2 separate regions of the Homo sapiens genome follow, and region 2 is linked to region 1. The links come from fine-mapping of genetic effects on gene expression. A gene starts in region 1. The other region holds a variant in brackets. All regions are shown on one strand. Distances are between the middles of the regions. Region 1 holds the start of PXYLP1 (2-phosphoxylose phosphatase 1). Region 2 overlaps PXYLP1 (2-phosphoxylose phosphatase 1).

Region 1 (5,372 bases):
CTCCTCCCTTTCTCTTACTCACAGACTGCAGGCATTAATTAAACCTCTTCTAGAAAACAGATTTTCACCAGCTGCAGGAATTCTGAGCCAGACCTGAAGACAGAGACAATCTGGGTAAGAAAGATAAGTTCGTGACAGCCAGGGGCAGTGCAGGCTCCCACAGCCAAGTGGCAGTCTCAATTTTAGCCCTTTCCAGATTCCCCCACAAAAAAAGGGGGACATGAGGTGTTCCCACCCCCTCAGCATTTGGCTGTACTGCCTGGGGGTGGCCTTTGACAGAGGCACAAGAGCTGGACCTTGCCCCATCTGCCAGTGGGTTATAGCCACCTCCAAGAGACCAAAGCACTGGCCCAAAACACCAACCTCCCTCCCACCAATAGAGCTGCAAGCCACAGTGCCAGAAATGTGCAAGAAGAGGCACTCCCAGCTCGCCACAGGAAGCAACACCCACTGGAGTGGGGATGGTGCAATCTGAAGTGGCCAGTGGGGCTCTGCAAGTGGTACCCTGTCTCCCTGGGAGCTTCCTCCGTCAGTGGGCAGGGATAGGAAATGTTAAAGGGGACTGGGGCTACAGCTCTGGGCACTATAGGTTAAGCTATGGTGGACTCAACCCTCAGCAGACAAACTTAGTAGCTTCCAAGGGCGCCCACCACCACCTACCCCAATTCTTGAATGAAGACAACTGATTTTCTTCATGGAAATCTTGGAGTCCCCACTGAGGTTAACGACCCACCATCAGAGACTGATCCGTAGATTGCACTCACTGCTCCAAACACACACAAAAATGAGTTTGTCTCTGGTGATATGACACATTAAAAAAAAAAAACTGTTGAATTTAAGGGTAACATTTTGAACAGTGTAGCAAAGTGTAGAAAACATTGGTTGTGAACTCAGACTAATTCACCGGGGCATCCATTTTTTTTCCTCACAAACACTGAGTACCCCTATGTGGTAGACAGGGGGGACCAGGCAGGGACCTGGGGCCACAGAGGTGGTTCCTTCCACCCATCCCTGAAGATGCTCCTGCACAGTGGGGCATCTGACAGCGACTCATCACAGAGCGGTGTAGGGAGGGCCAAGGAGAAGCCCACGGGAATTTCTGGACAGAGAGACCCTACTGAGCCCCAGTATGTCCTTGGGCTACTTATCTAATCAATAGTGAAGTAATATTGAGCTAACTATTCAAGCTGATCAATAGAAAAAAGAGTTACAGATACTGCAGTTCCACAAACACTCGGAGTGCTGTGCTCCAAAGGCCAGGTGGCCCACGCTGTTCCTGGTGCCCAAACGCAGCCTCCCAAGGCATCAGTGAGGATGGGCTGGCCAGGAGCCAATCCCTAACAGAGAAGTTCCCCCTACACATCCTTTCTCTGAGATAAGCAATTAATTTAATCCAAGACTTAATGAAAGCCAGGAGAAGGGATGGGGCAGATTCATACACTGGCTTTCAGGCTGTCCCGTGCATCTTCACCTCTCTCCAGGGACCACGAGGGTTTTTTTTTTTTTTTTTTTTTTGACAGGGTTTTGCTCTTATTGCCCAAGCTGGAGTGCAATGGCGCAATCTCAGCTCACTGCAACCTCTGCCTCCCAGGTGCAAGCGATTCTCCTGTCTCAGCCTCCTGAGTAGCTGGGATTACAGGTATGCACCACCACGCCTGGCTAATTTTGTATTTTTAGTAGAGACGGGGTTTTTATGTTGGTCAGGCTAGTCTCGAACTCCCGACCTCTGGTGATCCGCCCGCCTCGGCCTCCCAAAGTGCTGGGATTACAGGCGTGAGCCACCGCGCCCGAGGCCTTTTGATCCATCTGCTATAAATCCCCTTCCCACAGATGTCCCGATTGGGCACCAACACCTCTGAGGAGGGTAAGTTACTGCCAAGCCCGACCGCAGTCGCATCCCGTTTGAAAGGGTGGGCTCCGCACTGCCAGCTTCACACCCACGGGCCTTCTGCAAATATCAACAAACGGCTCCATTTGTGGAGCACTCTCCGATCCCCCATCCACCCCCCTACACTTCCCCATTCACAGCTCGATCTGATTCCCCATCTCTCCTGATTTTACTTGTTGAATGCTTACAAAGGATCCTTGCCTTTCCACAAAGACACTGGCTAGCCAGGCGGTGATAACCTCACTCACTACAGAGCCCCCTCGCAATCGCTGAACTCACAGCCGAAGCGGGAAAATATGGCTCCACGTCCTGCACCGTGAATCCTTTACCATCCACAGGTACAATTTAAAAGGCAGCTGCGGCTGCAAAGCAGGCAACCTACCCTAAGCAAATCCATTCTCTCTCTCTCTGTGTGTGTGTGTGTGACAAACCCAGCTTATTTAAAAGATCAGGACATAGGCAAGTTCACCAGCAAAAGCAACGTCGTGGGTCTACACCACACGGTCCTAACCTGCGCATCCAGGAATGTTAACCTGCGCTCGGGCGGCCCCGTGGCCAGGCCCGGGACTCCCGGAGGCGTCAGGCTGCAGGTGGCTGCCAAGAGGAGCCAGCCCCGTCTCCGGGAAAGGCCGCGAAGTTGCGGCCGCCTCCTTACCTGGAGACTAGCCGGCTCAGGACCGCCCGGGAAGGGGGATCCCGGGAGCTTGAATCTCGGCTGGAATCCAGCGGCGGGAGTGCGGGGGCCGTGCGGGAGAGGGCTGGAAGGGCGGGGGCGAGGTGGAGGCGGGCTCCGCGGGAGAGTGCGGGGCTGCGGGGGGCGAGGGCTTGGAGACAGAGCCGGGGGTTCGCAGCGGGCGTGAGACGGCGCCAGCTCTGGGAGAAGGGGGCTATGGGGCGGGCGCCGGGGCTGGGACACCGGGCGCACGGGGGGAGTGGCAGGAAAGAGGGCGCAAGTCCTAGGCTCAGGGGCGAGCGCGGGGATAAAGGAGGAGGCTTAGTCGCGGGATTCGGACCCGACGCTTCGAAGCGCCCCCAGCCTTCCCGCCCCTCTCCCACTGGCGAGTTAGGGGGACCCCCTCAGTCTCCCAACCTCGGACCCTGGACGCCCACCCGCCTAGAACCTCTGCGCTGCTCGGCCCCAACGGCAACCGCCCCGGCCCAGGCCCGCGCCGCACTCACCGCCCATGGTCCCAGGCCGGCCCCAGCTCCGTCGCTGCGCGCCCGGCTCGGCGCTCGCCGCCAGCTCCTCCCGGCGCGAGGGGAGGCGAGGGCGGCGCGCACCCGCCACCGGGGAGCTCGCGGGGCCCGGCAGCGCCCCCTGCCGACCCCGCCGCGCCCCGTCTCAGTTCGGCCGGCCCTGCACCAGGAGCCCTGGAGCTCCGCCCCGGAGGCGGTGTTGCGGTGCGGCTGGGCGGGGGCGACCGCGCGGGGTTGCTGAGAGGACACTGCCTCTGGGAGGCCCAGCACAGCCCGGAGAGACTGGTCAGTCTGCAGAGCCCTCGGCGTGCAAAGCCACGGGCACGGACAAGCCGAGCGCGCAGGGACCACGACCACAGACGCGCAGGGCTCTCGCGTGCCTCACAACTCCTGACCTGCGATCAGGGACTGCGCGGAGGCGCGCCAAGGCCCAGGAACACAGCCCTGGCCGGCCCGGGCCCTAGTGTGGGTGCTTTGGGGCCATGTGCCTGCCCTGGCGCCGCTGATGCTATCGCCGGGTGGGCGCGCGCGTCTGGGGTGCGCCTGCTGCCACGTAGACCCAAACTGTCACCCCCCACCCCCCACCCCTTTCGGCCTATCCCACACTCCTCTTCCGGCTCAGAACACATCCGGCCTTGTGTTGCTCTAGTCCTCGCTGCTGCTCCGTCTCCAACGGTCTGCAGAGACCCGGGGAGGTCGTGGCCCCGCGCAGTCGCCCTTCCCACCTGCTCCCGGCCCGCGGCTTCCTTGGAGCCGCTGCTGAAGATCCTCAGAGCACTTGAGGGCTGCCTGTAACGCCCCGTTAGACATCTGATAGGCGAACGGTTGTATTTGGTTTGATCAGTATTTGTGGGTCATTTATTGCAAATGTTAGGTTCCAGCTGGTGGAGATTTCCACCAGATTTCTCTGTGGGAGATGAAACGACCAACAGCGATTATCAGAGAGGTCTTTGCTGTCAGCTCGAGGTCTACAGCAACCCTGTGTGTCCTAGCACAACTAGCCTCAGGCAAAATAGATACGGATTCGAATTTGCTACTATATACCTTTGAGGTGCACCTTTGGGAGGATCTCATCCCTTGACTTCTGCTTTCTCTCCTTGATTGATGGCTCTCAAATCCACACACTTGGCTCAGATATGTTAGCCATATTTCCCCCTACCCTCCGGTTTTTTTCTTAGAACTTTCCTCCTCAAGTTACCACGTCTGGCACTAAATTTTACCTCTTCCAAGCTCCCAACTCCATTTATCCCCGTGGTCTCGCCATTCTCTCAGCCACCTGTCATGCCTTCTTCATCAGGTGCCTTAATGGCTCGTCAGTACCGGACTTTGCTGCCTGTCCGCCTCTGGTATTCCCCCGATGCAGCGCTATCCCGGGCCTTTTTTCTGCCCTGAATACTGACAGCCTCTCCCAATCCATGAGCACAAAATCTTTTCACTGTCCCCTTTGGCATCACCCCCAACTCTCCCACCTGGCCCCCACAGAAGCCCACCGCAGCCCGCCCAACAATGTCTCCTCTGCCCCTTCTGATTGTCCTCTCACGGATTGCAGGCTCTACTGCTTAGCTCACACTGTCACCCTCTTCTCTACATGGGTTAGTCAAGGTGCTTTCTGCTGTAAAAGACAACCCAATTCACACTAACTTAAATCACAAAGGGTTGATCCGCTGTGTACATGAAGAGCCTGTCTGCTTCAGGCCTGGCTTTAGTCCCAGGGTCTCAGGGACTCCCCGTCTCAGTTTTGCTGTCTTCCACATGAACTACGCTTTCATGCGCACATGAGACCCTGGCAGATCCAGGCTCACAGCCTCACAGCTCTAGTTCTAGCAGAAAATCAGCTTCTCTGCCAGCCATTGCAACTAGCCTTGGACCTGGCTTTGTTTGCAGGATTGGGCCACATGTCCATGCTGTGCTCTCAGCCTCTGTGACTCCATGGCAGGTGGGTTCACTCGTGGACACACTATCACCCTCAGCAGGGAGCATGTAGGCACTCTTGGATCCCTTCTCTGTCACAAGGGGACTAAAGGTAACTCAGGGCACCATCTCTAGCCATTTCTCTGCAAAATTTGCCACACCAGCGCTTTGCTTGACAGCGCAGGGCATACTGTGGGGGCAGAGTCTCAGCCTGGAGATAGGACACAGGCCCTTTCTGCTTTCAGCTTCCTCCTTAACCTATCTGAGATCTGTGTCTTTGTACCACCCCCTTCCCTAGGTCCACACTTGGTATAGGGATAGCCTCAGGCCCTCATGGAATCAGGCATCATACACTCCCTAGACTCACATCCTGTTT
Region 2 (5,372 bases), 54 kb before region 1:
GACTGTAGAATCTAATTCTGTTTTTGTGTCTAGAACACAAAACCATTTTTGTATAATATTAATGTTCACTGAATTTTCCAGAAATACAATATAAACTAAGGAACATCTATATTTTGTTTTGATCAGAACTTCAGAAAAACCATGTCCTGACATGTGGTATTAAGAGTCAACAATACAGCATCCATCAATCATCTGCATTTGTAGTTGTCAGAGTCACATTTAGGTACAAGCATTTGAAGATTTCATTCTATTTTCTAGTGTAGCTGTTCTTAAGCATTTATACAGAGACACATATAATTAGGTAGTAAATTAGTTTCTTTTCATTTGTTATCGCTGGGGACCCTGGTATAACTTTTAAGTAATTAACTGCATAGAAAGATTACATTCATTCATTCATTCATTCATTGAGACAGGGCCTCACTTTGTCACTCAGGCTGGAGTGCAGTGGCATGATCATGGTTCACTGCAGCCTTGACCTCCCGGGCTCAAGTGGTCCTCCCGCCTCAGCCACCTGAGTAGCTGGGACTACAGGCACATGCCACCACACTTGGCTAATTTTAAAAAATTGTTTGTAGAGATGGGGTTCCACTATGTTGCTCAGACTGCTCTCGAACCCTCAGGCTCAAACGATTATCCTGCCTCAGCCTCCCAAAGTGCTGGGATTACAGGCATGAGGCACCATGCCTGGCTGGTTACATTATATTTAAATTTCACTTCATGATAGTTGAGGGAGATTGCAAAATAGTTAATTGTGTAATCAAAGGGGGTGTTGGATCTGCTAGGATGAAAACCCTCGTTCTAAAGTAATGCATGTGGAACTAATTGCCAAAGGCTTTTGACACAACTCCTTATCCACGGCTAGTCCTCCAGAGGCTTCAGCTTGTTCCACTCTGTCTATCCAATATCATTTCCCCAATAATAATGGCAAAACCTAAGAGGGCCTACTATAGGATGGAGACCTTCCCTCCATCCCTGCTGAAGTCCTAAGATGCTGATGCAAGATGAAGACAGAACATGGCCAATGGGTCTTCCCAATTCACCCATAAAGGCTGGTGACCAGGCAAAGGTCCTCTGAGGTTCCAGATTGAAGAATCAGAAAACTGAAACCTCTTGAAGGACCACCTGTTCCTCTATTCCCAGCAAAGGTGACTCCACAGTTAACTCACCAACCTACCCTGATGGTGAACTGACTGCACATGGTCTGACTAGGGCTGCGGAGGGAAAGCTGTGCTTCTGTGAGAACTCAGCTCAGCCAAACAAACTCCACATGCAGTAGAAATGTGCCATGCATTTTCCTCCCTGAGATCTTGTACATGAAAACCTATTAGAAGTTTTGTTAGAAATATCTGAGAACATGAGATTAGTTAAATAAATGATCAATTGCCCATCCAGAGTGAAAGAATATGGCGCTATCATAAATGATGTAGTGGATAAACAGTTATTCATAGGGAAATATTAACAAAATGTGTTGTTGAGTGGAAAAGTGGGTTATGAAATAGTGTGTTTAGTAAGATGTGTGTGTGTGCATAAGCACAGGAAGAAGGGTTACTCTTAAGGGTCTATTTCTGTGGTGGAATTACGGTTGCTTAAACTTTTTCTTCTTTTTACTTGTCTTTCCTAAATTATTTTCATGAACACGTATTGTTTTTGTAAGAAGGAGAAAGGTTCTATTTAGTTTTGAGAACTCTGATGTTTATTTAGAGGCCCTGGTGACCGAGCTCCTTGCAGAGCCAGTCCTTGCTTACCCCCTCTGAGCTGCACAGCACCCCGCCCAGGAGAACTGCTCGGAAGGTATGCAAGCAGAAGAGCGGGTGGGGGAACCCCTGAGCGCATGGGGGTCACACATACCTGTCTGTGTGAGCTCTCCCATCTCACACAATGGGTGATTTGGGTAAAGAGGCAAGGAGTTCAAGGGGCTTTCGAAAGAGGCTCCGGATCCTTTTGACATGTGACTAATGAAAGCTTCCAGTTTTGGGTGATACGGTTTCCTAGAGAGATGATAGAGAGAGTTAGAGGTCAGAGTGCTCCACAAGAATCCAAACAGTTTCCAGCTTCAGCGAGCCAAATCCCACGTGTATCGCAGCCTTTTGCACCCACAGTAACAGGTACCGGCTCAATCACTTTTCAGTTCCAATTTCATTATTTCTCGACCACTGACACTGACACATGAAATCCCCTCTGTGAGGTTGGCCAGAGTTCCTAACCTCTGCTGAACTCAGTACTGTGGGATTCAGCTTCGCCGTCTATCTTCCGGCTCCCCAACCTGTGCTGCCTTC[C/T]GGGCTCGCTCTCCGGGAGGCCGCCAACACCCACCCAGCAGTCACGCCTAGGCTGGGCATCGTCCCACTCTCTCCATTCCCTGCCCCTGCACATGCTGTCTGCTCCCCATGTCTTGCAGATTCTTTCTCCTGGTGCTTCTCCATCCCCTTCTCCTTCATCCTCACAGCTACTACCTAGGTTCTGGCCTCAGGCAGCTTTTGTCTGGCTGGCAATGGGCTCTTTATTGGTCTTCTTGCTGATTAAGCATGCCCCTCTAATAATCTTGCCTTCTCCACCACCAGAAGGATTGATTTAAAAGGTAACTCTGACCAGTCACTGCCCTTCCCTATCACCACCTTCTGGAAGGGGCCACACACAGCCTGTCCCTCTATTCTGGCCTCGCCCTGGTACTCACTGGCCCTCTCTACCCTAATACTGTGCTCTGGCCACGCCAAGCCAAAGGCCTTCTTTCCTCCAACACACAACGCACCTCATTCTTCAACACTTCCACCACTTCCCACGAGCTATCCCTTCCTCCTAGAAAATCTACCCTATCCTTTATCAAGGTCACCCATAATCCTTAATTTTTCTGACCTCTGAAAAATCCCCCTTTAGGAAAATTGTTAACTGAATAAGATAACCAGGATCTCTATACCTCTTTACAATCCACTCCACGTTTTGGACATACAACCTCTCATTTAATATAGGGTAATAATAAATGTCAAAAAAAGTTTATATATGAGATCTGAGAGTATCTATATTTCTGCCACAAAGTATATGTGGTAAATCTTTCTAGTCACTAATATACAATTACCCTGAATAATGAAATGACCTATGAATATAAACATCTTTTCTTTGAATAATGAAGTAGCCTATGAATGTATATACATTTTCCAGCTGAAGAGAAGTGGACAGATAGAGTAGTTCATGCCTAAACTCTATAAGAATCAGCATGAAAAGAAGCAAAGATAAACTGTTCTAATGGCAAACCCCTGCTGTCTGAAGGCCCAGTTAACTTTGAAAGTGCTTTAAAAATGGCTGCCAAAATGGGTTTATTATCTATCAACAACATAAAGCTAAAAAAAAAATCCATCTTTTAAAAATACGTTTTTAAATTAGAGAATACTAATCCAGACATGTAATATAGTCTAATAAATCACCCTGGATAGCTAAAGGGAGTTATGCCTTTCCACAAAAACAGGGTACGTTATTTTGCCTGAGGCTAAAGCACATAAATGTTTGCAAACTGGGAAATAAAATGTCCAGACTGACAATGAGGCTGCCAAGAGTAATCCACATAAACAAAGGCTATCCATCAACAGGAGTCAAATGTTCTGCACCAGGCCATTATTTCAGGTTGGAGCTTTTTTTGAGGATCTGAGAAAGCTTTGCTGCCAATTTTAGAAATGGAATTTCATGACTGGAAGTGTTTGCTGAGGTGACCCAGGTTTTCAGGGCATCTGACTGCTTAATGATATCTAACTGCATTCATTCCAATGTTTTTTATTTTTGTTTTTTTTTGTTGTTGTTGTTGTGTTGTTTGTTTTTGGCATGCAAAGATGAAGATTTGTGGAAGAAAAACTTCATTTAAAGAATAGCTAACAGGCCGGGCATGGTGGCTCATGCCTGTAATCCCAGCATTTTGGGAGGCCGAGGTGGGAGGACTGCTTGGGGCCAGGAGTTTGAGACTGGCCAACATAGTGAGACCATGTCTCTACAAAAAATACAAAAACTAGCCAGGCATGGTGGCGCAGGCCTATAGTCTCAGCCACTCAGGAGGCTAAAGCAGGAGGATCACATGAGTCCAGGAGGTCGAGGCTGCAGTGAGCTGTGATTGTACTACTGTACTCTAGCCTGGGTGACAAAGAGATACCCTGTCTCAAAAAAAAAAAAAAAAAAAAGAAAAAGAAAAAGAAAAAAAACATTTGACAACAAATGGCTGTATCTTTTTAGTGGAAAGCAGACCAGGTAACTCGAGTCCTGGACCTGGATCTGACTACCCAGGCCTTGTCTGCCTGGTCCACTGCTCCATCCCTGGAGCCCAGAGGGTGCTTAGCACATAGCAGATGCTCTAAAAATATATGTGAGTGAATTCAACTGTGAAGTGTCCCATCCTTGGATGTTTCATGAAAATAGCAAGCCTTCCATAATCTGTAGAAATGAATACGATAAGTTCCCATACGGTTTGTTAAAATATTCAGATTTTGATGAAAATATAGTCGGCCCTCCATCTCTTCAGATTCTGCATTGGAAGATTCAACTGTGGATCCAAAAATACTTGGAAAAAACCCAATAAGAAATAACAATACAACAATAAAAATAATACAAATAACAACTATTTACACAGCATTTACATTGTGTTTGGCGTTATAAGTAATCTAGAGATGATGTAAAGTACATGGGAGAATGTGCGCAGGTTCTGTGTAAATACAACACCATTTTACATAAGGGACTTGAGCATCTCAGATTCTGGTATCCAAGGAGGATCCTGGAACCAATCCTCTATGGATGACTGTATTAAAACTAAAGGCTAGTGTGGATGAGACTAGTGTACTAGTCGTACACTAAAATCTATTCTCTTCTTAAGAACTTGGTTAGATCCTATTTCTGAGGTCCTGAAATGAGGTAAAGCCGCATTCGCCAACAGAACGGAAAGATGTATGCCACTTCTGGGTTCAGGCTTTCTGATCATGTGTATGCCCGGTTCACATTATCTTCCTTCCTTCCAGCCATTATTTAGGCATGGCAGCAACCAGGGTTCAACCATGTAGCCATCCCCAGGGGATGGTAGAAACAACAACCTGGAAGAAACCTGGGGCCCTGAATGACCAGGTGGAGCTGACTAGCACAATCTGGAACACACATTTCAGACCTTCACATGAGGAAGAGCTAAACTTCCTTGTTATTTAAGGTAATGCATTCATGAGTCCCTGTGCTACAAAATAAACTTACAAAATAGGTGTACCCTGACTAATGCAGACATAATTATATCCATGAAAATAAATTTTTCTTTAGGAAAAACTCATATTATTGTGGGCTCATTGAAAATCTGCTTTCATAATGAAAACTGAAATAATCAAAAGTGTTACTATCTTAAGCCTTCAAGTCATTCACTT

What was found.
Region 2: its variant is fine-mapped to the expression of PXYLP1 in whole blood (TOPMed, PIP above 0.99).

The regions. Positions count from the first base shown.
Region 1 is chr3:141,229,607-141,234,978 of GRCh38, reverse strand. PXYLP1 (2-phosphoxylose phosphatase 1) reads right to left here and starts at 3,154. Exons shown (of 6, transcript NM_001037172.3): 1 at 3,068-3,154. RefSeq lists a silencer at 3,036-3,415.
Region 2 is chr3:141,283,930-141,289,301 of GRCh38, reverse strand. PXYLP1 (2-phosphoxylose phosphatase 1) reads right to left here. Exons shown (of 6, transcript NM_001037172.3): 5 at 1,849-1,988. Among named protein-coding and RNA genes, the nearest start is that of PXYLP1, 55 kb to the right of the region's middle. The variant C/T (reference allele first, on the strand shown) is at 2,277.